Regions from separate parts of the Homo sapiens genome. Here region 2 is linked to region 1. Evidence: fine-mapped expression QTL. A gene starts in region 1. The other region holds a variant in brackets. All regions are shown on one strand. Distances are from middle to middle.

Region 1 (11,196 bases):
TGGCAGGGACAGAGCCAGGGCCAGGCTCAGGCCTTGCACTATGTCCCAGCGTCCGCAGAGCTGATGAGATGCCGGCCAGCCTGGCAGAGCTGAAGCTGCCAAGGCTCAGCCCTGGGGCACTCACCCAGGTTACCCCTTCCCCATCCCTCACCACCAACAGCTCTAAGCTAAGTGAGCCCCTCCACAGTGGGGACGGGATAGGAGCAGCACCAAGCCAGCATCTGTAGAAAATCCATGGACCCGCACTTGCAGAGACACTTGTCTCGGCTCCACATCAAGACCAAGTAAAGAATTCTTATTATTCCGACAGAGTCTCATGTGGAAGAGGGGCCCAGAGGGGTGGAGCCACATGGCTAGCAAGAGGCTTCCAGTGTGCCCTGGTCTCTAAACAACAGGCAGAAATTCTCACACTGAGGCCCACCGTTCACTTCTAAGATACCTGATTAAAGGGCACAGGCATGGCCCTCGGCCCCCAAACCCCCTACCCCTGGTACAGACTAACCATCTGCTTCGGGGAAAAGGTCAGGCTTCCCCTCCAAACCGAGCTCCCCAGACAACTGGGGCAGGGGCAGCCAGAATGAGACGGGAGGGTGCTCGCTGGTGCACGGCATCCAAGAACTTCGGCCCTGAGAACCCAGGCAGCGCCCTGAACTCTCCATCTCAAGTGGCTCCTCTGAAAATCAGAATAGACTGAAAGGCTCAAATGCAATTGAGTGGTCGACACTCTACAGACCTCAATTATCAGGCTCTAAACAGAATGAAGATGCAAATATGGAAGAACAGAAAAAAAGAGAAAAAAACTTTCCCCCACCACAACCTCTGAATGCACTATGGCCTGAAGCCCTCTCAGTCCCCTCTCCCAACCTAATGAAGCCTGCTAGAATCCCTGCGAATGGAGCAGGAGAGTGGGTTTCACTCGCACTCTCCTGGTGAACCTGGGCAGGCGCTTGATTTCTCTGAGTCTCATTTCCTCATCCGTGAAAAGGAGACACAGCCCACCAGGGCGGGCTGCTGTGAAAAGGCATTGAGCTAAAGCAGGTGGCCGTGACACAGCAGGAGCTCAGCAGGTGCAAGTCTCTTCCGGTCCAACCCTGAGGCCACGTCCAGATGCTTTCTGGCAGGACAGGTAGGGGACCGGTCACTACCCCAAAGGTGATGGTGCTAAACACAGAGGAGCAGGAGAAAGACTCTACCCATTTGCCTAAGTGACTCAAGTACTTTTCCTCAGACCATTCGGATACTACGGCAGGCGCCATGCACCCCGCCACCCCCATTCTTTGCAACTTTTAGCAACTTCAAGAAAGCGGAAGTGACTACCACTAGTTTTTAGCTACCGTTTGAAAACCATGAGTCTGGCTGCAAACGGAAGAAGGGGAAATTGTAAATGAGAAAGGAAGCCATTAAAAACGAAAACTACCTCTGCCGCTCTCCCTCCACCAGCTCTGCACTATTGCCTCTGGTTTCTGACTTAGCTGTGGTGTTTTAGGGCCTTCAACACCAGCCACCCCTCAAGGGCCTGCCAGCCCCTTCCTTCCCCTGCTTGGACAGGCACTAACTGCGGCTCCCACAGAGCCATCCCCACTGCTGCACGTATCCGCCCAAGCACAGCTCTGCCGCCAGGGAACCGGTGGGCCCATGCTTCATCTGTCACCCCTTCCCAACCTGCGCTGACCCACGAGCACCCAGAAATGGAGGTCATGGGCACAGATGCCTCAGGGGGCCTCCAGAAACAGCTGCCTGAGCTGTCCCAATGCTCAGCAGAAGCTCCAACGCCTGGCCCCCTGGCCGGTACCCTAGGAAGGGAAAGAGCCTGCTACCAGCAGCAGGCTGGCCAGCACCCAGCTCCTTAAAGGGCCCAGAGTCCGGAGGACAGCAAGACCATCTCCCTCTAATGTCCCCCAAGCCTCTGTCAGCTCTCAGCCAAATCTGAAAGGGGGCTGGGAACACCCAATTCCAGGGATGCAGTGACAGTAATGGCAACCCCACCACCTCTGGGCAGGACCTACGGTGTGTGCCGGCTGCAGAATCCGGCATCACCCACCCAGCAAGGAGGAACCAGGGACACCAATTTGATAGAAAGGGCCACTGGGGCCAGAGGAGAAGGGGGAGCGGCCCAAGGCCCAACAAGATGATGAGCTAGGGCTTTCCTGTGGCTTGGGAAAGCCTTGGGGAGGGTCCCCACTTAAAGAGAACCCTCAGTGCCTCCCCCTCTGGCCCCAGAAGCACACCCTCCCAAGGGAGCTAGCAGCCCTGGTCCAACCCCAGAGGATGGAATAACTAGGAAACAGAAGAGTCTAGAAACACTGGCCAAGGACTGGGACGGGGACTTGAACATCCACATTCAAATCGTCTCCTGAACTGGCCACAGGTTTAAAGGAAAGAAAGGAAAAGACCAATGAACGGATTTGAAATAGCTCTTTGGAAAAACAGAAAGGGGCAGAGTTAGGGTTACAGTGTGATCCAAAGTCAGAAAAGCTTGCATTCCCATTTGACCTCCCCAAACTGAAATCTCTGTGGCCTAGACCAAGGATCTCACCCCACCGAGCCCCAGTTTCCTTATCCGGGAAATACCTCACAGATGGGGTTACTATAAGGCAGCACTCTCTGGAGAAGGACCCACAAAACTGGTGTGCAAAGGGAAAACCACGGTTTGGCATGGAAAGGCAGGTGAGCCCCATCAAGCCGGGTGCCGAGTGATTCCCACTCTGGCAAGGCCCCTCACTCTCACCAAAGCTCTCAGGCCTCTCTCACCTCATCTCTTGCTACCTCCCGCGTGGGCGTCACACCTGACTGCCCTCAGCCGGGGCTGGGCTGCTCCCTCCTCCTTCCCGGAGCTCTTCGAGTCTGACTAGCTCCTCCTGGGTCCTTCAGGCCCCCACACAGACACCACTTCCTCCAGGGAGCCTCCCCCCCGCATCTGTGTTAGAGGCCTGCTCCACGCCGCTTCCACAGCATCCCGCAGTCACCCTGGAACAGCATGTGAGCCTCGGCTCTGTGACAGGATGTACCTGTTCAGTCATCTGCCTCCCCCTGAAACATGCCGACTTCCCAGGATCTAGCATAAGGCCAGGCCCAACTAAAGCTACTTGTTGAATTAATGAAAACTGAAGCCAGAGAAAGGTGTTCTGTTAAGAGCACTGGGCCACACATCCCACAAAAGAAAAAAAATGGGCAGGGGGACCAGACAAGCAGGTTCTCCTCTAATGGAAAGAAACAGTAGATGAACCAACAAAAGCTAATGGCCACAAAGATGGTGGTGACTCGCAATACACAACTCACCAACTCACAGCTCATGAGTCACAACAGAGCAAATAAGCCACAACGACACACCATACCCCAGCAGTGGAGCAAAGTTCTCCTCCTCTGCGCTGCTAACATTTGGGCTGGACGGTTCTTTTCGGTGTTGGGGCTGCCCATGCACTGGAGGACACTTAGCAACATCCCTAGCCTCCACCTCCACTCACCAGATACTGGCAGCATTCCCCCCAGTTGTAACAACCAAAAACATCTCCAGATATCGCCAATCGTCCCCCAGGGGACACAATCGCCCCCAGTTGAGAGCCACTGCAATGGACATTCCCAAATCAAATAATAATCGAAAGAACGGCCAGGTGTGGTGGTCCATGCCTATAATCCCAGCTCTCTGGGAGGCTAGGTAGGAGGACTGCTTGAACCCACGAGTTTGAAATCAGCCTGGGCACCACAGCAGGGCACCAGAGCAAGACCCAGTCTTTACAAAAAATACAAACATTAGCCAAGCGTGGTACAAAAACACAAAAATTGAGCAAGCATTGCAGGACGTGCCTGTAGTCCTAGCTACTTAGGAGGCTAAGGTGGGAAAATCACTTGAGTCCAGGAGTTCAAGGCTGGGCAAACGAGCAAAACCCAGTCTCAAAATCATCAACATCAAAACAGCTACTGATTGCAGAGTGTCATGTGCCTTGCATTCTGCCACAGGCTTCTACAAACCCTGCACTTAATCCCTAGATCCACCCTCTGAGGAGAGCAGTCTGCTATCCCCACTTACAGACGAGGAACAACTTGTCCAAGGTCTCGCTTGGCAGAAGCCGGACTCGGCCTAGGTCTGTCTGGCAAAAGATCCTCTAACAATTAGCTGGACTGCCTTCTCATGATCCCAATCCCAGAACTAGAGTTAAAAAAAAAAAAAAAAAAAAAGCATAACATTTTCAACAGCACAAGCAGCTCCAACAGCCATCCCACCACTAGTAAGCACACGTGGCCGGGCGCCGTGTCTCCATGTGTGTTGTGCATGTATGTAAACCAAGTCCTCATCCTGTGTTATCCAGGCAATCTCGAGTCCTTGCTGCATTTGCAGCGCACGCTAACAGTTAGACCCTCGCCCTTGGGCTGGATGAAATCCCACTGCAGTTTCTCTACAACTGTGAACCCAGTACCGCACCTGACAGTCTACGCAGCTTCCTTTCCTGAAACATCTTGCCTTTCAGGCGGGTGTCTATGGTCATGTCTGTGTGTACTACGAGCGAGCAAGAAAGACCCCAACCAGAGGTCCCATTCGAGGCCTGGATAAGCACGCCGGGCGGAACTACTCTGCCCCTCACCCTCCCAATACATCTGCACTCAGGACTCCGACCTTCCTTCCTTGACATATCTGCACGTGCTGCTCCTTCCCCCCCCGGAAGGCCCTTCTTCCCACTCTCCATCTGTCACCTCCTACTCATCCTTCCTAGACAGAAAAAGCCGTCCGTCCAGTCAGTCTCACCAGTGCCTCCCGCTCTGTGGCCCCCTGCAGCTCCCTAAGTCACCTCGATCACGACACGCAGGAATTGTGACTGTCCGGCTCTGCCTTTGTACCCCCTCCAGGGACCGGCCCCACCTCCAGGGCAGGGCCTAGGGCTGATGCCCCCTCCTCGGTGCCCAGCGCCAGGCTCCCTGCCTGCCCTCAGCAGGCTTCATCTCACTGAAGCAGGCCCGAGTGGTGGCTGCTCCAGAGAAGCCCCGCTCCCAGGTCCCTCGCACAAGAAGCCGGAGGCGGGAGAGGGTCGGTCAAGGTGAAAACAAGCCCCGCTCCTCCAGTCCTGAGCTCCGGGGATCTAAGGAGGCTGCGCCACGGAAGAGGTGGCGGGGCAGAGATCGGGGCGAGAGGGAAGGGTGTAAGCAGGCAAAGTCCAGGGTAACCAGGGAGAAAGACTCCTGGGGGGCCGGGGAACCGGCCAGAGAGGCAAGAGAGCGGAGCTGAGGCTCAGGGACTGGGGAGCGCAGCTGCAGAGAGCGAGTGGGAAAAGGCCGAGAGCAAGAGACTGAGACTAGGGTGGCGGCGGAGCTGAGGTGAAGAGATTAAGAGACTGGGGAGGGTCGAGGGGGAAGAAACGGGGTGCCGTGGAGAGGAAACCCGAAGGAAGGAGGGAAAGGATCCGAAGCAGAAAAGACCCGCGGGGGTCCCGAGAGGGAAAAGCCTGAGGGGACGCGGAGAGGGGAAGACGTGGGCGCCTGGCCCTGGAGAGAGAGGGTCGGGCGACGCGGGCCGCTCACCTGCGAGGGGGGGCGGCGGCTCCTCGCACTCGGGGCTCATCGGGGCGCCCCCCCCCGCCCCGCCGCCGGCGGCTCCGGCCCCTGCTGCGGGGCCCGGTGAGTGGGGGCGGGGGCGGCGTCGGGGACTCGCGCAGGCGCCGGGGCTCGCGGGGTCCGCGCAGGCGCCCGCGGGTCGTGGGGTCCTCGCGCGCCGGGTCCTGCAGAGTTGAGGGGGTCAGCGCCGGGTGGAGTTGCCGACGGGCGGGGGGCGTCACTAGTCCGCGTAGGCACCTCCGGGGTCCGCAGGCGAGGTGGGCGTGCGGGCCGAGGCGGGTTGGCGAGCCGGGTCGCGAGGCCCACGCAGGCGCCTCAGCCGGGAAGACGGGGGAAGTTGCCCCGGTTTCCACAGTCCAACCGAGCGCCCCACGGGAGGGGAAGGCGACCTCCTCCGCGGTCCAAACGGGCCGCAGAGCCGAGCAGCGACCGACGGAAGCCGAGGCCTACTTCCTTAACCACCCCTTCCCCAAAGCCGCTCAATCTCCGGGCTCTGCGGCCGGCCTCAGGGCCTCCGACGCCCGGCTCCCTCCGCCACTATCCCACAATCCCCCTAGCGCAGGACGACGCAGGAGGCCCCGCCCTCCCGCGGCTGTGTTGGTGCGCAGGTGCGGGGGGCGGGGTGCACGCCTGGGCGGTGCAGTGCGCGTGCGCCCGGGCGCTCCCGACACCGCCCACTCTTGAACCCCGCCGCCGCAGACGCGCTTGCGCCCGTTGGTGCCAACGGTCTGCCCCGGAATAAACCCAGACAGCTCAGTGAGCCGCAGCTGCGCACCGGCTCCGTTCCAAGGCCCCGTGAATATTCCGCTCCAGGATTTCCCTTCCCACTCGCTCCGTTTGGAAATCCGTTCGCTGTTCTGTCTCCTCTAATCATAGTGGAGCTTTGGCTCCAGGGTCGGGCTCTTGCGAAATCCAGACCTGGTTTTCGCTCCAGCCAAAGCCAGGCGCCTTCGTTCCGTCCGGCTCTCGCGCTTAGCCGCCTCCGAGCCTCAGAGGCCCTCAGTCGTTTCCGTCTGCTGGCGATAGTCCCGGCCGGGTCGCTGGTGTTGCCAGTTCCGCCCAAAGCAGCTTCTAATAGCATCAACTGAAAGAGACCTCCTAGACCTTGTGTCTAGATTGATGAAGGTCCCTCTGGCTTTGAGCCTCGGTTTCCCCAACTTTAATAGCTCCCCTCTCTACCCATGTTAGAGGCCTACTGTAAAAATCGTGTGGGCGCGAGGAACTTTTTTGTTTTTGTTTTTGTTTTAAGACTCCGAATTGGCCGGGCGCGGTGGCTTACGCTTGTAATCACAACACTTTAGGAGGCCCGAGGCCGGAGGATGGCATGAGACCAGGAGTTGGAGACCAGCCTGGGCAACCTAGGGAGACCCCCGTCTCTACAAAAGAAAATTTAAAAAATTAGTTGGGCCTGGTGGCCCGCGCCTGTGGTCTCAGCTATTCGGGAGGCTAAGGCAGGAGAATCGCTTGAGCCGAGGCTGCAGTGAGCCGGATTGCACCACTGCACTCCATCCTAGGAGACAGAGCGAGAACCTGTCTCAAAAACAAAGGGCCCAGCGTGGTGGCTCACGCCTGCCTGTACTTGAGCTCAGGAGTTCAAGACCCCACGCCTATAATCCCAGCACTTTGGGAGGCCGAGGTGGGCGGATTGCCTGAGCTCAGGAGTTTGAGACCAGCCTGGGCAACACAGTGAAACCACGTGTCTACTAAAATACAAAAAATAGCCGGACGTGGCGGTGTGCGCCTGTAATCCCAGCTACTCAGGAGGCTGAGGCAGGAGAATTACTTGAACCCGGGAGGTGGATGTTGCAGTGAGCCCAGATCAGGCCACTGCACTCCAGCCTGGGTGACAGAGCGAGACTCCGTCTCGAGAAAAAAAAAAAAAAAAAAAAAGAGCAAATTCACCCCTCCTTTGCCCTCTTTGTTCTATTGAGACCCTCAATGGATTGGATAATGCCAGCTCACACTGGGGAGGGAAGATCTTTATTCAGTCTACCGATTCAAATGCTAGTCTCTTCCAGAAATACCCTCATAGACACACCCATAATGTTTTACCAGCTATCTGGACATCCCTTAGCCCAGTCAACACCTGAAATGAACCATCACAGAGAGGCATTTCCTTTTCTCTTTTTTCTATAGAGATGTTTTGTCTTTTACCCAGCATTTGGCTTCCTTGTTTTCTCCACAATATGATGGCATCATTGCCACACTGTTTTAACACAGAGGTCAGGAACTGAGGGATAAGGATGTGGCTATAGTCCCTACCCTTCAAATGGAAGCTGGGAAGCTGTGGGGGCTTTAATGACTGAAGTCTGGATTTCCACCCAGCAGAACTCACAGATATACATTGTGTTTGCATTAGAATTGAAACTTTTTTTTAAGAGACAGGGTCTGGCTCTGTCGACCAGGCTGGAGTGCATGGCACGATCACAGATCACTGCAGCCTCGAACTCCTGGGCTCAAGCAATCCTCTCGCCTCAGCCTCCCGAGTAGCTGGGACTACAACTGGAACTTTTTTCTTGAGACAGGATCTCAGATCCTGCAGCTACCTCTCAATTTATCCTGGATTTAGGAAGAGGAGTGATAAAAACCAATCCAAATAGACTCAAAAATCCCAGATCCACCAGAACAATCCACACAAAAGGAATGAGTCTGACATCAAATTGTCCTAGGAAACCAGGATACAAGAAAGAGGAGGATTGGCCGGGCATAGTGGCTCACACCTGTAATCCCAGCACTTTGGGAGGCCGAGGAGGGTGGATCACCCTGTCAAGAGTTCAAGACCAGCCTGGCCAAGATGGTGAAACCTGGTCTCTACTACAAATACAAAAATTAGCCGGGCGCGGTGGCAGGCGCCTGTAATCCCAGCTACTTGGGAGGCTGAGGCAGGAGAATCTCTTGAACTCGGAGGGTGGAGGCTGCAGTGAGCCAAGATCGGGCCACTGCACTCCAGCCTGGGCAACAGAGTGAGACTCCCGTCTCAAAAGAAAAAAAAAAGAAAGAAAAAGAAAAAGAAAGAGGAGGATCGCTCTGGAATTAGTCCAGCTGTGAATCCTGGCTGTGAACTTGGTCAGGGGTCAGCCTCCTCTGAGCTCAGCCTCCTCTCTGGAAAAACAACAGCTTTCAAAGCTCTTGTCTACAAATGACAAAATTTCTTGTAGCTAAACAGAAAAGGAATTTATTAAAGGAATTGAGGCAGCCTCCGACACCCCCACCTCCCGCCCCAATCCCACGTCTCTGAGAAAGCTACAGAATCCGCTTGGCGCTTTGCAGTCAGGAATGAAGCCCACACCCAGCCACAGGCCTGCTCCTGAGACACAGTGCAGCCTCCATCAACGGCACCTGGCTCAGACACTCCCGCCAGAATCTCTGCCAGCCCTGTCCAGAAGCCAGGTGTGGCTGCTCCTGCACTAGCCAGAAGGGAACCTGGGCAGGGGCCCCTCCACCGCCAACTCTTGGCCCGACGACCGGCGGGCTCTGATTGGTAGAGGAGCTAGACCACCAGCGGGTTCTGATTGGTGTACAAAACAGATTCCCAGAGAGAGTTCTGATTTGTGGAGCTAATGTCACATGATTACCCTACAGCAAAGGATGCTGGGAAGGGAAATGGCGGCTACCCTAGGGAAAATTTAGATGTCTAACCTGGGAAATTCCTCAAACCTAGAATTCAGGTTTGCCAGGTGGCCGAAAAAAGGACAGATGTCCCACACACTGTTGCTCAGGAAAGACAGGGAAGAGTAAATGACACAATGGCTCTATAGATGATAAAGAGCAACACTTTTATTATTCTTCCAGTGGCTCCCCAAGTCCCTTAAACCCGTGCCCCTCCTCCCGTCCCCCATGCACCCTCCAAAGGAGATGACAAAGGCGGCAGTGAAGGAGGAGAAGGAGGAAGAGAAACACCTTTATTGGAAGAGCTGTGTGGACAAGAGAACGGGGATGAGAGTGAGAGCATGGGAGGTGGGGTCCAAGGAGCTGGTGCCTTTCTCAGCGCCCCTTCCAGGGACTGCACAGAGACGGGCTGGCACACCCTGGGTCCAGGCACCTAGGCCCTGCGATCCCTTGGGAGAGGGCCTTGTAGGTGGGGAGGGAGGCAAGAGGCCTGGGGTTCCCACGGAGAAGGGGGCAAGAAGCCACCTGGTTTCACCGATCCATGCTGTCGTCCGCTGGGCTGGAGAAACAGGTCTGTAGCAGCTTTTCACAGAACTCCAGCTCCTCCTGGATTGGGCAGGGGCAGGGAGCAAGGGGCCTGAGTGCAGAGGCCGGACCCTGCCTCCAGCATTCTTGGCACCCAGAGGTGACTCCTCTTCTCTCCTGGCCACCACCCACTCCCCCCCACCAGAGGTTAGGCTTTTTTAATCACTGCTCAGATCCATGATTCACTGTCTTCACACTGGTGTCTGAACTACTTGAACTAGAACCCGGGGTCCCCCAGACTCGTCTCACTCCATTGGTCTGCCTCATATCAGCACTCTTGGGCTCTTTCTAACTCCCAGATATGGACCACTGCTCAAAACTTTCTGCGGATACAAACCCCAGAAACCATGAAAGAAAGCACTGAGAGGTTAAACTACGTAATATAAAAAATACTCCCATGGCAAAAAAAGAAAAAGAAAACGAGGTTGGAGAAAAATATTTGTGATTCATAGCACAAATGGCTAATATACTTAACTCTTAAAGAGCTTAAAAAAGTCATTCGCAAAAACCATCACCCAATAAATAGATAAGTGGGCAAAGGATGAGAACGAACAGTTCACAAGAAAGAGAAAAGATGCCAAATTTCACTCATGGGAGAAATGTAAACTGGACTGGAGTACTACTTTTCAACAATCAGTTTGAAAAAAGGTCAAATGGTTCATCGAGGCCACTTTGTCCTGACCAAGATTTGGGGAGTTGGGCACCCTCATGACTGGAGTGTCAATGGTTGAACTTCTATGGAGAGCAGCTTGGTGATAGCTAATGAAACGGCCCTTAACCCTTTAACCTTCACCTTTAACATACCTGACCCCAGCCATTTCCCTTCTAGAAATTGTTCTACAGACATATGTAATAACATATACAAAAGGTTATTCTTTCAGCAGTGTTTGTCATAGCGAGAGTGTAGAAACAACCTGCATATCCATGCTACAAAAAAGAGCCCATCCGCACTGTACAGCTGCAAAATGAAAGAGCCACAGGCGAGACATGCAATGCCCACAAAGCAAGGGGCAGAACAGCCATCACAGCACGGCAGGCTTATTTTGCATAACATAGAGAAAAAGGAGAATTCACATGCACCTTTGCTCGTGTGTACCTAATATTTTAAGAAGGACACCTGAGCAACTGGGTAGCCAGAAGGAGGGGCAGGAGAGAGACTTTTCACTGTTTACCCTCCTGCGGGTCTTGTATTTTCAACCATGTGACTACGGAACCTATTCACAAAGCATTAGTAAAATCTGTTACAAATCTAATTTGAATGTTTCCACGGGTGTATACATAAGTCAAAACTTCTCATGTAGTACACTTTTTTTTTTTTTTTTTTTGAGATGGAGTCTCACTCTGTCGCCCAGGCTGGAGTGCAGTGGCGCATCTTGGCTCACTGCAACCTCCGCCTCCCCGGTTCAAGCGATTCTCCTGCCTCAGCCTCCTGGGTAGCTGGGATTACAAGCACCTGCC
Region 2 (11,196 bases), 32 kb before region 1:
GGCCTGTAGGCTCTGGCAGCTCCTGGGATTGCTGTCCTCGGTGCTGAATACGCGTTTGTTGGGGGCACACCTGACAAGTTTGTCATTTTCAGGGAAAACCCAGTCTCTCTCGGCGCTGAGGAGAAAACATGGCACAGCCCTTCTCAGTCCTCTAGCAACCCTGGACTCTGCAGGAGAAAAGAGAGATTCCCTACATTTGTTTCTATGAGAGAAGGGAAGGCTGGAGCAGGGGAGTGGGGGAAATCTCTGCAGTCCTCTCGGAAAGCAAACCCTTCTACACCTGTGATCCCATGTGATTTAGCAGAGCCCTGAGTTAAAACTAGGCCATGATGACACTTGGTGACACAAACATCTGACAAAAGAGCTGTACCCTTTATATTTTCAAAGACTTTCTACAAATTAAGGAAGGCAGAAGACCCATTTAATGGGCAATGGACTTGAAGAGACACTTTACCAAGAATATCCAAATGGCCACAAACACACACACATACACACAAATGGGAATGTGTTCAACTTCATTAGTCATTATGGAAATTAAACCACAAGGAAGCACCAGAACACTGCAGCAGAAGAACTAAAATGGAAAAGACGAACAACCAACTATCTGCAAGAATATGGGGCAAATGAAGCTTCCTCACATTGCTGGCAGGATGGTAAACTGGTAAGCTGCTTTGAGAAATGGTTTGTCAGTAACTACGAAAGCCTAAGGTACGTATACCATCACTCAGCGATTCCACTGCTAGGCAGACATCTGAGGGAAAAAACTTCCTGTGTGCTCCAAAAGACATGGACAGAAATGTTCATGGTAGCTTCATTCATAGTATCCCAAAACTAGAAACATAAAATGTTCATGAAGGGAGGGATGAAACAATAAGTTGTAATACATTCATGCGATAAATAGTACACAGCAATAAAAATAAAAACACCCAGCATGGATCCACATTTCATCCACAATGTTGAGTGAAGAAAGCCAGAATCAAATAACTACATACTGTATAATTCCACTTAGAGAAGTTTCAAGGACAGACTACACTAATTTACGATGATAAAGATCAGGAGACTGGTCACTCTTGGGGAAGGGAGGTACAAACTGGAGGGGAGACAGGAGAACCTGCTAAGATGCAGAAAATTTATTTTTTTTTAATTTTATTTTTGAGATGGAGTTTCGCTCTTGTTGCCCAGGCTGGAGTGCAATGGTGCGATCTCAGCTCACCACAACCTCCGGCTCCTGGGTTCAAGCAATTCTACAGGCATGCACCACCACACCCGGCTAGTTTTGTATTTTTAGTAGAGACGGGGTTTCTCCATGTTGTTGGTCAGGCTGGTCTCGAACTCCCAACCTCAGGTGATCTGCTTGCCTCGGCCTCCCAAAGTGCTGGGATTACAGGCGTGAGCCACCACACCAGGCTATTTATTTTGAGACAGAGTCTCACTCTGTCACCCAGGCTAGAGTGCAATGGCACGATCTAGGCTCACTGCAACCTCCACTTCCCGAATTCAAGCGATTCTCCTGCCTCAGGCTCCCGAGTAGCTGGGATTACAGTCATGTGCCACCATGCCTGATTTTTGTATTTTTAGTAGAGACAGGGTTTCACCATGTTGTCCAGGCTGGTTTTGAACTCCTGACCTCATGATCTGCCTGCCTTGGCCTCCCAAAGTGCTGGGATTACAGGCGTGAGCCACCGTGACCGACTATTTATTTTTTGAGATGGAATTTTGCTCGTCGCCCAGGCTGGAGCACAGTGGTGCGATCCTGACTCACTGCAACCTCCACCTCCCGGGTTCAAGTGATTCTCCTGCCTCAGCCTCCTGAGTAGCTAGGATTACAGGCATGCACCACCACGCCCAGGTAATTTTCTTGTATTTTTGGTAGAGACAGGGTTTCATCGTATTGGCCAGGCTGGTCTCGAGCTCCTGACCTCAGGTGATCCACCCGCCTCAGCCTCCCAAAGTGCAGGGATTTCAGGCATGAGCCACCTCGCCTTTCAGCCCACACAATGAAGGTTTATGAAGCCCCAGATTCCAGGGCCTCCACCACAACCCCATCTCTGCCACACTTCTGGTCCCACTGGGGGCCGTGGTCCCTGCCCACTGGACCCAGTAGGTGTAGGTGTGGGGGTCTGGGCCCCGGGGGGATATACACCTTAGTGTAACAGAACTCAGGGTCTGAGCCTGTATCCTCAGATCCATGACCTGGCCGGGTAAGGAAAGGAAGGGAAGGGGGTCAGGGTTCCTGCAGGAAGGTTATCTGAGTGGCCTTAAACAGACCCAGTTGTCTCTTACTTGTAGTTCTCAAGAGTAACAGTAGAATGTGCTGGGAATGCAACATCCGGAGATATGGAGGGACTGGCCAGGCGGCCTGGGCTCCATTCCTGCCTGCCCTAGAAACAGGATGCCCTTCAATGCTTGAGCCCGGTGACTCAGGTTTCCCCCAGAGTAGAAAACCCAGGGCTGGGTACTTTTTGGGGTCCCTCAGCTGCCATACAAGTGAGGCACACACAGTTGTGACCCTATCCTCCCTAGGCCACTTTCCTAAGCCTTGGGGGACCAGCTTACAACGGACCCTGGGATTCTGCTGTCCCTTGCTGCCCATCTGTGAGAAACAAGCCCACTTCATGTAACTTTTTGCGTGTGGCGTTCTGTCTCATCACTCTGGCAAGTTGGTAACCAGTGCACAGTGAACCTGCTTCACAGACCACACCCCATAGTCCCTGGGCCTCCAGAGCAAAGGGAAGCATCCCCTCCTTCCCACAGCCCTGCTTGCTCTGGAAGGATGCACCCTATCAGTGGGGCCGATGCCAGAGGCCTCCTGAGGCCTCCTACTCCCCAAGCCCAGAGTGCTCTCACCCCTCGCCCGTGGCCTCTGTGAGCGTCTGGCTGGGGCTGTTGACCTCATGCTTCTGGGCCCACATGCTGGGGTACTGCGTCCCTGCAGCCAGGCCCTCCACAGGCACCCTGATGTCTGAGGAGTCACTGGCCCAGCAGAGCCAGTAGGGGCAGGTCTTGGAGTCTGGGCCTGCGGGGCCCTCAGGGTGAGGGAGCTGGTGGTCTGAGCCGGTGTGACCAGGCCAGGGACTAGTTTGGGAATGTGGAAAGGAGAGAGTCATTTGATAAAGTTTGTTTGTGGCTCTAATGAGAATAAAGTGCACAGCCTGGCACTTTTTACAAATGTGCACACGCACGCACGCGCACACACACGCAAACACACATGCACACACAAGTGCACGTGCACACACACGCACATGTTGCTGGGCAGTGGAAAGGTGGCCCCTCTTACCTGTAGACATGCTCAGGACGTCCCTGGGGCCACCTACTCCTTTCTTCTTGGCCCACACAGAGGTGGTGTAGAGGGTCCCAGGCTGAAGCCCTCCACCACGAGCCAGCAGTGTGACGTGCTTGTGTTCCCGCTGGCCATGCCCCTGGACCCAGTAGATGGAAGTCTGCCGGTCTGGGCCCTTGGGGCTGCCCAGCTCAGGGTGATGGAGCTGGAGGTCCGAGCCTCCACACTCACGATTCTGTCTGCTTTGGCGGCTGACATGGGTAGAAGCCTCTGCGGCAAACAGAAGACGGAATCCCACGGCCCTTCCTAGACGTGCAGGATGGAGGCTGATGGGGTCACTAACCTGCTGCTGTGGCCTCTGTCGTGGTCCCGAGGGCCTGGGGAGGGCCCAGATGGGGAATCAGACCCACGGTGGTCTGACCTGCAGGATCGGGATGAAGGCTGCTGAGTCCCACCCCGCCTCATCCCCACCAGCCACCCCGGCTTGGGAGGGAAGATGGAGCCGGCGTTTTGCCCCTTGCCCCAGGTCTGGGTCCCGGCAGGGCTGGAAGGAGCCTGAGAGGGATGTGCGCAGCACCTCCGAGAGTCCCGCTTTAGAGAAACACGAATCAGATCATGAGAAAGCAGACCTCTGAGAAGTCAGATGAAAGGTCGTCGGGGGACCAGAATCAGGGAGGAGGGACACGACGCTGGGGCTGCTGGATGCCGACAGGAGAGCAGCGTCCCGTCGCTCTGGACTGCCGACCCCACAGAGCCCAGGGACCAAAAGCCAGAATGTTCCCCAAACACCAGGGATTATGGGCCCAGCCCCTCCTCCCTCAGACTCAAGAGTCCAGGCCCCCAGCCCCTCCTCCCACAGACTCAGGAGTCCAGCCCCTCCTCTCCCAGACCCAGGAGTTCGGGCCCCCAGGCCCTCCTCCCTCAGACTCAGGAGTCCAGACCCCAGCCCCTCCTCCCTCAGACGCAGGAGTCCAGGCCCCCAGCCCCTCCTCCCTCAGACCCAGGCCCCCAGCCCCTCCTCCCCCAGACCCAGAAGTCCAGGTCCCCAGCCCCTCCTCCCTCAGACTCAGGAGTCCAGACCCCCAGCCCCTCCTCCCTCAGACCCAGGAGTCCAGACCCCCAGCCCCTCCTCCCTCAGACTCAGGAGTCCAGGCCCAGCCCCTCCTCCCTCAGACTCAGGAGTCCAGGCCCAGCCCCTCCTCCCTCAGACTCAGGAGTCCAGGCCCCCAGCTCCTCCCTCAGACTCAGGGGTCCAGGCCCCAGTCCCTCCTCCCTCAGACTCAGAAGTCCAGGGCCCCAGCCCCTCCTCCCTCAGACCCAGGAGTCCAGGTTCCAGCCCCTCCTCCCTCACCTCCAGGAACCCCTCATGTCTGCAGGCCCCACGTGCCCCTGGAATCTGCACACCCAGACCCCCGTCCCTCCTGCTACACTTCACTGCGCAATTTCCTCTTTCCCCACCTTTCGCCAGGTCTGAGTGGAGAGGGTAGGAGATGAGGAGGAAGTGGAGGTTTCGAACCTGAGTCCAATCCTTCAGATCCTCCTCATGCCTGACCCTTCCTCAAGGAAATCCCTCAGCTTCCACTTCTCCTCACTCCAACTGTGGATTCCTGTCCTCACTTTCCTTCCTGGTCCCCGTCCTCCAGGCTCCCCACCTTCCCTTCCCACCTCTGTACTCTCACATCTGAGTCCCTAAATGCAGGTCATGGATGGAGAAGTCACCTCTCTGCTGTAAGAGTCCCTAAATGCTGGCCATGGATGGAGAAGTCCCCTCTCTGTCGTAAGAGTCCCTAAATGCAGGTCATGGATGGAGAAGTCACCTCTGCTCTAAGAGTCCCTAAATGCAGGTCATGGATAGAGAGGTCGCCTCTCTGCTGTAAGAGTCTCTAAATGCTAACCATGGATGGAGAAGTCGCCCCTCTGCTATGAGTCACTGAAAGCACATCATGGATGCAGAAGTCAAATAGGGTCTTGGAGAGCAGCTTGGACCCTGTCAAGTCTTCAGATGCAGAATCTGAGGACCTGAGGGATAGCAGCTTGCCGAGGTCACACAGCCTTGACAAGGAGCACAGCTGGGTTCCTCCTTCCCATTTGATTCCTACCCCCTTGCCGCCCTCCCTCCTCCAAGACCCCTCATCCTCAAGCCTCCCACCCTTCTCCCGATACTGCATGTGACTGCAGCGGGTTGTATCCCCTAGAAAGATATGTCCAAGTCCTAACCCCAGATACCTCTGCAGGTGACACTACTTGGAAATAGGGGCTTTGCAGACATACTTAAGGATCTTGAGATAGAATCACCCTGGGTTTAGGGTGGGCCCTAAATCCAATGACCTGTGTCCCTAGAAGGATGCGGACACAGAGGGAGGCTGCCAGTTGAAGACAGTCACATGAAGACGGAGAGACACAGCCACAGGCCGATGGAAGCCAGGGATTCCCGGGAGCCTCCAGAAGCCGAGAGGGCAAGGACGGATTCTTCCCTGGAGCCTCAAGAGGGACCATGGGCCGGAAAACACCCGGATTTTGGACTTTGGGTCTCCAGAACTGCAGGAGAGTCCATTCATCTTGTTTCAAAGCATCTGGCTTGGGGTAATTTGTGACAGCAGCCTCAGGAAACTAACACAAAGACCAAACAGTCCTCTTGGCTCAGTTCTGCACAATCCTCACTTTATCCCCCCGAATCCCCCCACCAGAGGGCCATGGAGGGTCCCACTGGGCACCAGGCCTGGTCCATGGGGAGCGACAAAGAACCTTCTGCTGTCATTAACCGCGATGGTTTATCACAATCATGACCCTCCCCGAGGCCTCTCCTACGGTAACAGCAACATCTACGGTTCCACACCCACAGGGAAAACGGATTCAGAGCAGCAGCAGGGGGCGGGCAGGCTGTGGGGCCGACAGTGAACATGGAGGCAGGCTGGTGGCTGGGAGGGCTCCATGTGGGCCTGGCTGAGGAGCCAGGGATCTGGAGTCAGAACCGGGGGAAGGCAGCTGGAACCCAGTAGTGGACTTGGAATTCCGCAAATCGTCCTCAAACGTCTTCAGCCAGAAGCGACGGCGGCAGCGGCGCCTGCAGACAGGCGTCAGGAAGCTTCGCTGCTGAGGGTATTTCTCAGGCTGGGCTGGGCTGGGAGGCCCAGGTCCTTGCAGGAGGAGAGGGCCTGAACACCGGCCCTTCAAGCTCCCTAGTCAGTCAGTCTTGGGCACCGGGCTCCTGAGGGCTGACAGTGTGATGAGGAGCTGGGCAGCATAGTAGGTGGTCATGATCACCAGGTGGGCATGGGGCAGGGGCTGGGCGAAGGTGTCCCAGGCCAGCACGCCATCAGAGAGCGTGAAGAGCAGCGCGCCCCAGCCGGCACTCCCGCCCTGGGCCAGGCCGCGCCACAGCATGGCCATCAGGATCAGCCCATAGGCTGCCACCGGCAGGACCATATCCGGCTCGAGGTGCTGGAGCACAAGGCTGAGGTAGGGGCCAGGGGCCAGGATGATGAGCAGCAGCAGGCCGGGCTGCAGGGGAGAGAAGCCGAAGGCCCAGACGTAGAGGAGGTGGGCGGTGGCAAAGGCGGCCATGCCTGGCGGGAGAGGGGTGGGGTACCAGTGAGGAAGGCCCATCCTGGGAATGGCCCCGAGGTCACCCCTCAGGGCCTAAGAGAAGGACCATCCCAGAGCACCAGGCCCCACCCTGGCCGAGCCTCCTTGCAGGTCTCCCCACATGCAGTGTCCATCCTTGCTCTGCTCAGAACTGCCAGGAGGCCCCACCTTCCCTTGGCCTCCAAAGCCCCATGGCCTCCAGCTCTCCAGCCACTCTGCGCCAGCCACCCTGGCCTGCTGGGCTACAAGCACCTGACACGTCCCTGCCCCGGAGCCTTTACACTCGCCCTTCCTCCACACAGGCATACAGCCCTTCAGCTCTGCCCAAATGTGACTTCCTCAGTGAGGCCTTCCTCAGCAACCCTGCTTCAAACTGCAGTACCTCCAGCAGGTCCTCACTGCCCTCTGCGCCACCTCAGCTACTGCCCTAACACCGCCTGCCCCCACCCCTCGCTGGAGCGTGAGCTGCCTCGGTCACGGCTGCGCCCCCCACTGTGCCTTTGACCACTGGAGCTCTCACAGGAGCCCTCTGCACCCAGGCTCCCATCCAAGTGCTGGGGCCTCTCTCACACGGGCATCTGGAAAGCGTCACAGCACCTTCCACTCACCAGGGACGAAGGCTGCCGGCCAGATGAGGCAAGCGTCCCCCACAGCCGAGCACACAAGGGCTCCCTGGAGGAGCTGGGTGTAGCCCCCGCTTGGGGACATGACCCACAGGAACCCAGCCAGGCAGAGGAC[G/A]GGCAGGCACTTGACCAGGGCAGCGAACCAGGACAGCTGGTCCTCGGGAATCCAGAGGCAGAAGTACACGCAGCAGGAGAGGATGAAGGGGCTCAGCCACCTGCAGACATCTGGGCGCTTTGGGGAGTGGGGAGCTACTGAGCCGAAACCCAGCCCAGCCCCCATTCTTGGGACTCAGATCTCATGGCTCCTGTCCCACCCCCACCTGGGACCCCAGCTGTACAGGCTGGACCCATTCAGGGACCAGGCTGCCAGAACCCAGCTTCCCAGGGCCCAACCAACTCAAGGACAGCAGCTCCCAGACCCGCCGGCTGCTGGGGTTCCAGGGCCCTGTCCCCCCAGCCCCAGGCACAGCTCAGAAGGCTCTCACCTGGGCTGAGCAGTGAGTCTTCAGGGTCTGCCCCGCTTTGCCAGCGTCCATGCTGGCCTGATAGCCCCAGAGCGACCTAATCTGGGAGCGAGTGGCTTCAGGGGGTGGAGGGGAGGGCTCATGGTTACACGTTAACCCAAGGAGCGTCCTGTGGACTCTGTGACTGATAACAGGGCCCAGGGAGATGTTGTCCTCACCCTGGGGATGGCCCTGCCTGGCGCCCGCTGATAAAGCACTGTTGGCACTGGGGGTCCCTCTGCCCTAGCCTGCTGGGACATGGCTTCCTCCTCCTATCTGCCTGGGGAGGTTAGGCCCACAAATGCCTGTCCCCTTGTCCTGGGCCCCAACAATCAGAAGAGATGGGGTGCAGAATTCCAACAGCCACCCCATCATGGGAAGCGGGAGAGGGGCTGGCTGGCAGGAGTGCCCCTGGAGGGATGGGAAGGCGAGTCTGTCCTTCACTTGCTGCCCTAGCCGTCTCCCTCCCTGCTCCATGAAACCTTTCCTCATTCTGCTCAACCCCACCAAGCCCTCAGGGGCTCCACCACAAACACTGCTTCAATGGGTGACCAGGAGGGACCACCACGAATGCGGGGAACAAGCACCCTCTCCTGTTAGCTGAGCGAGCCCCCAGGTGACCTCCAAGCCAACTGCCACCCCAGTGAGGACGCTGTCCTCATGGCCCGGTCCACACGCTCCGGTTTCCCAGCGCCGCTCACCGGTGCCACTCGCTGCACACGCAGCCTACACTTCTACCTTCTACCTGAAAGACTCAGACCTACTGGGCGCCAGTACCCAGCCTCAATGCTGGGCTTGGTTACTGGGGGTAAGCAGGGGCAGGAGCAGGGATTTGAGCCTGTCGGTGGCTTCTATCCTCTGCCCAAGGCCCTGCCCACAGGTGGGGTAGACCTGGCAGGAGCCCTCACAGCCAGTGCCTGGCCCAGCCTGGGGCCTCTGCAGCCACAGGGCTCCCTCTGGCAGGACAGTGTGGGGGCAGACTGGGTCAGGAGCACCCCCAGCCTCTGGGGTGCAGGGATAATACAGGCTCCCCACCCCGCATCCCAGAACGTAAGGTCTGACCAGCAGAATCGTAAACTGCCTTCCTTTATTTATATTTGCAATATGAAATAGAAGCTCGGCACAAACGCACGCACACTCACACCAGCCTGGGAGGAGGGAGCTGGGGACAAGGTCACTTGGCAACAGGGCTGGGACCTCAGACCCTCAAGGCCCCTGGGGCTGTTGCCGGGGAGGCCCCTGCTCCCCAGAGCCGGACTGGCCTGGTTGAAAGTGCAGGGTCTGGGCAAAGGCACGGCCCCCACTCGGGACCCTCTGGCACCCCCACCCACGCTGGGCCGTCCCCCATGGTGGACCTGAGCTAAAAGGCCGGGTGTGGGCGTGGCCGTCTGCGCTGCAGCGTGGGACAGCTGGGCACGTGGGTGGCAACCTTGGGACCCCTAACACCAGCTCCCGCTGGGACGGAACAGGGAAGGCTGTGCTTTGGAGCCGCCAGCCCAGTTCGGTGTCCTCACTCTCTCTCGCTCTCCTCCCTCTCTCTATATAATATATAATATATGTTTCTCTCTCTCCATTCTCTCTATTTGACTCTCTGTATCTTTATTCTAGGAGGCAACGCTCCAAAACTTCTCTTCTCAGTGCAAATGGGGGTGGGTTGGGCCTGTCTCCCTGGCACCAGCCTCCTGGGGGTCCAGAGGAGAGAATGTGGGGGTGTCAGGGTGATGAGGGCAATGGGGGCCATCGTGGGACCCGCCCTGCCCCCACCCCGGGAGATCCACGGGAGGACGGAAGATTTGGCCGCCGCTGCCGCACCAGGCAGCTATCTGGAAACAGAGGGAGATGTCGTGTGAGGGTCTAGCAGGCCCAGCCCCACCTACCCAGCCCGAGGCTGCAGCCACACTCACTGGGAGCCTGGGGATGCAGGCCCTTCCGGGGCAGAGCCATTGGGTATCGGAGGAGGCGTGAGGGCCTGGGCACTGTCAGGGGAGAGAGGGGATGTGCAGAGGTCACTTCCTGCCCCACCAGCCCCACCCCCACCCCCCCGCCCTGCTGCCCTGGTGCTCACCTCTGGCTTTGGGGAAGCCCCAAGGGCTCTGGGCTCTTCTCCCCTTCTGTGGTCTGGGGGGGCTGGTGGGCCCCGGAGGCTGGGACAGAGGTAGAGGGGTCTCTGGTTGCACTGTGGGTGAGAGGCAGGTGCGGCTGTCAGCGTGGCCCCCACCGTCACCTGCTGACACCCTCACATCCCACCCGACTGAAGTCGGCTCACTGGGTGTGTGTCTGCCACCTGCCCCACGGGGAGGGGCCTCCCGAGGACGCAGCTGGCTCAGCGTGGAGGGACAGCACAGCCCTGGACAGGAAGACAAGCACCCCTCTTCCCGCCTCCTGTCCCTGTGGAGGAGGTACTCGAGGCCGGCTGAGACAGCCCCAAAGGGTCTTCTGCATGCTCTCACCCTCCCAATCCTTCACACCCTCCAACGAGCCCTTCCCAACCCTGGGGCTCAAGGGCCCCAAGCATCCCAGGCTACTAAGAGAAGAACCAGCCTACAGAGTGCAAGGGGCTGGGGCACAACATGAGGCTGCGCCTGGGGGTCCTGCAAAGGAGGCCTGGAGCAGCTCAGGGACAAGATGAACCCAGAGCCCACCTCAGCGAAGAGGAGAAAAGACTTCTCCCGATACTAGGCAGCCCCACCTCGCTGCTCACCTGTCCGAGGAGCTGGGGGCAGAACGGATCCCGTGGAAGGTGGCCTGAAGGTCCCCGATGCTAACCAAGGCCTGGCAAGGGGCTGTGGGGGATAAGAGATCTCAGCTGCAGCTCCCAGCAAGCTCGGAGCTGGCCAGGCTGCTCTCTCTGCCCAGGGCCGCGGGTGGGCAGGGCAAAGCGGGGCTCACCTGAGGGCTCCGTGACTTTGCTGCCTTCTGTGGCTTCCTGAGGTGCTGAGGGGGGTGTGGGGTCCTGAGACCTGGTAGGCGAGAGAGGCAGCCCAAGGGGGCAGCTAGGGTTAGCACTCGAGCCTATGAGAGGACGGGGACCCCATGGCCACCTCCTGGCCTCGGGATACCAGCACCATTTAGCCCGTTCCATCCGGTTCTCACCTGAGCTGCAGGGCGTCACGGGCAGGAGGGCTGGCCAGGCTCTGAGTGGGGAGGCCCTGGGGCACACTGAGGGGCCCCTGTGGGGCTGGAGGCCCAGTGTGCAGCTCTTCCT

The links. PIP is the estimated chance that this variant, and not a neighbour inherited with it, causes the effect.
Region 2: its variant is fine-mapped to the expression of PPP6R1 in thyroid (GTEx, PIP 0.95).

The regions. Positions count from the first base shown.
Region 1 is chr19:55,252,924-55,264,119 of GRCh38, forward strand. PPP6R1 (protein phosphatase 6 regulatory subunit 1) reads right to left here and starts at 6,094. Exons shown (of 24, transcript NM_014931.4): 1 at 5,512-6,094. HSPBP1 (HSPA (Hsp70) binding protein 1) reads right to left here. Exons shown (of 8, transcript NM_012267.5): 8 at 9,300-9,759. The coding sequence ends at 9,685. RefSeq lists enhancers at 1,745-1,884, 2,185-2,234, 5,342-6,316, 6,322-6,521, 6,552-6,601 and 4 more and silencers at 4,174-4,367, 5,552-5,611, 5,782-5,881, 6,012-6,291, 6,198-6,492.
Region 2 is chr19:55,220,718-55,231,913 of GRCh38, forward strand. TMEM86B (transmembrane protein 86B) reads right to left here and starts at 8,046. Exons shown (of 3, transcript NM_173804.5): 1 at 7,974-8,046; 2 at 7,474-7,720; 3 at 5,921-6,846. The coding sequence starts at 8,024. The coding sequence ends at 6,464. PPP6R1 (protein phosphatase 6 regulatory subunit 1) reads right to left here. Exons shown (of 24, transcript NM_014931.4): 19 at 11,085-11,196; 20 at 10,881-10,951; 21 at 10,693-10,774; 22 at 10,057-10,167; 23 at 9,896-9,967; 24 at 9,062-9,814. The coding sequence ends at 9,811. MIR6804 (microRNA 6804) reads right to left here and starts at 10,235; the gene lies at 10,168-10,235. The variant G/A (reference allele first, on the strand shown) is at 7,604.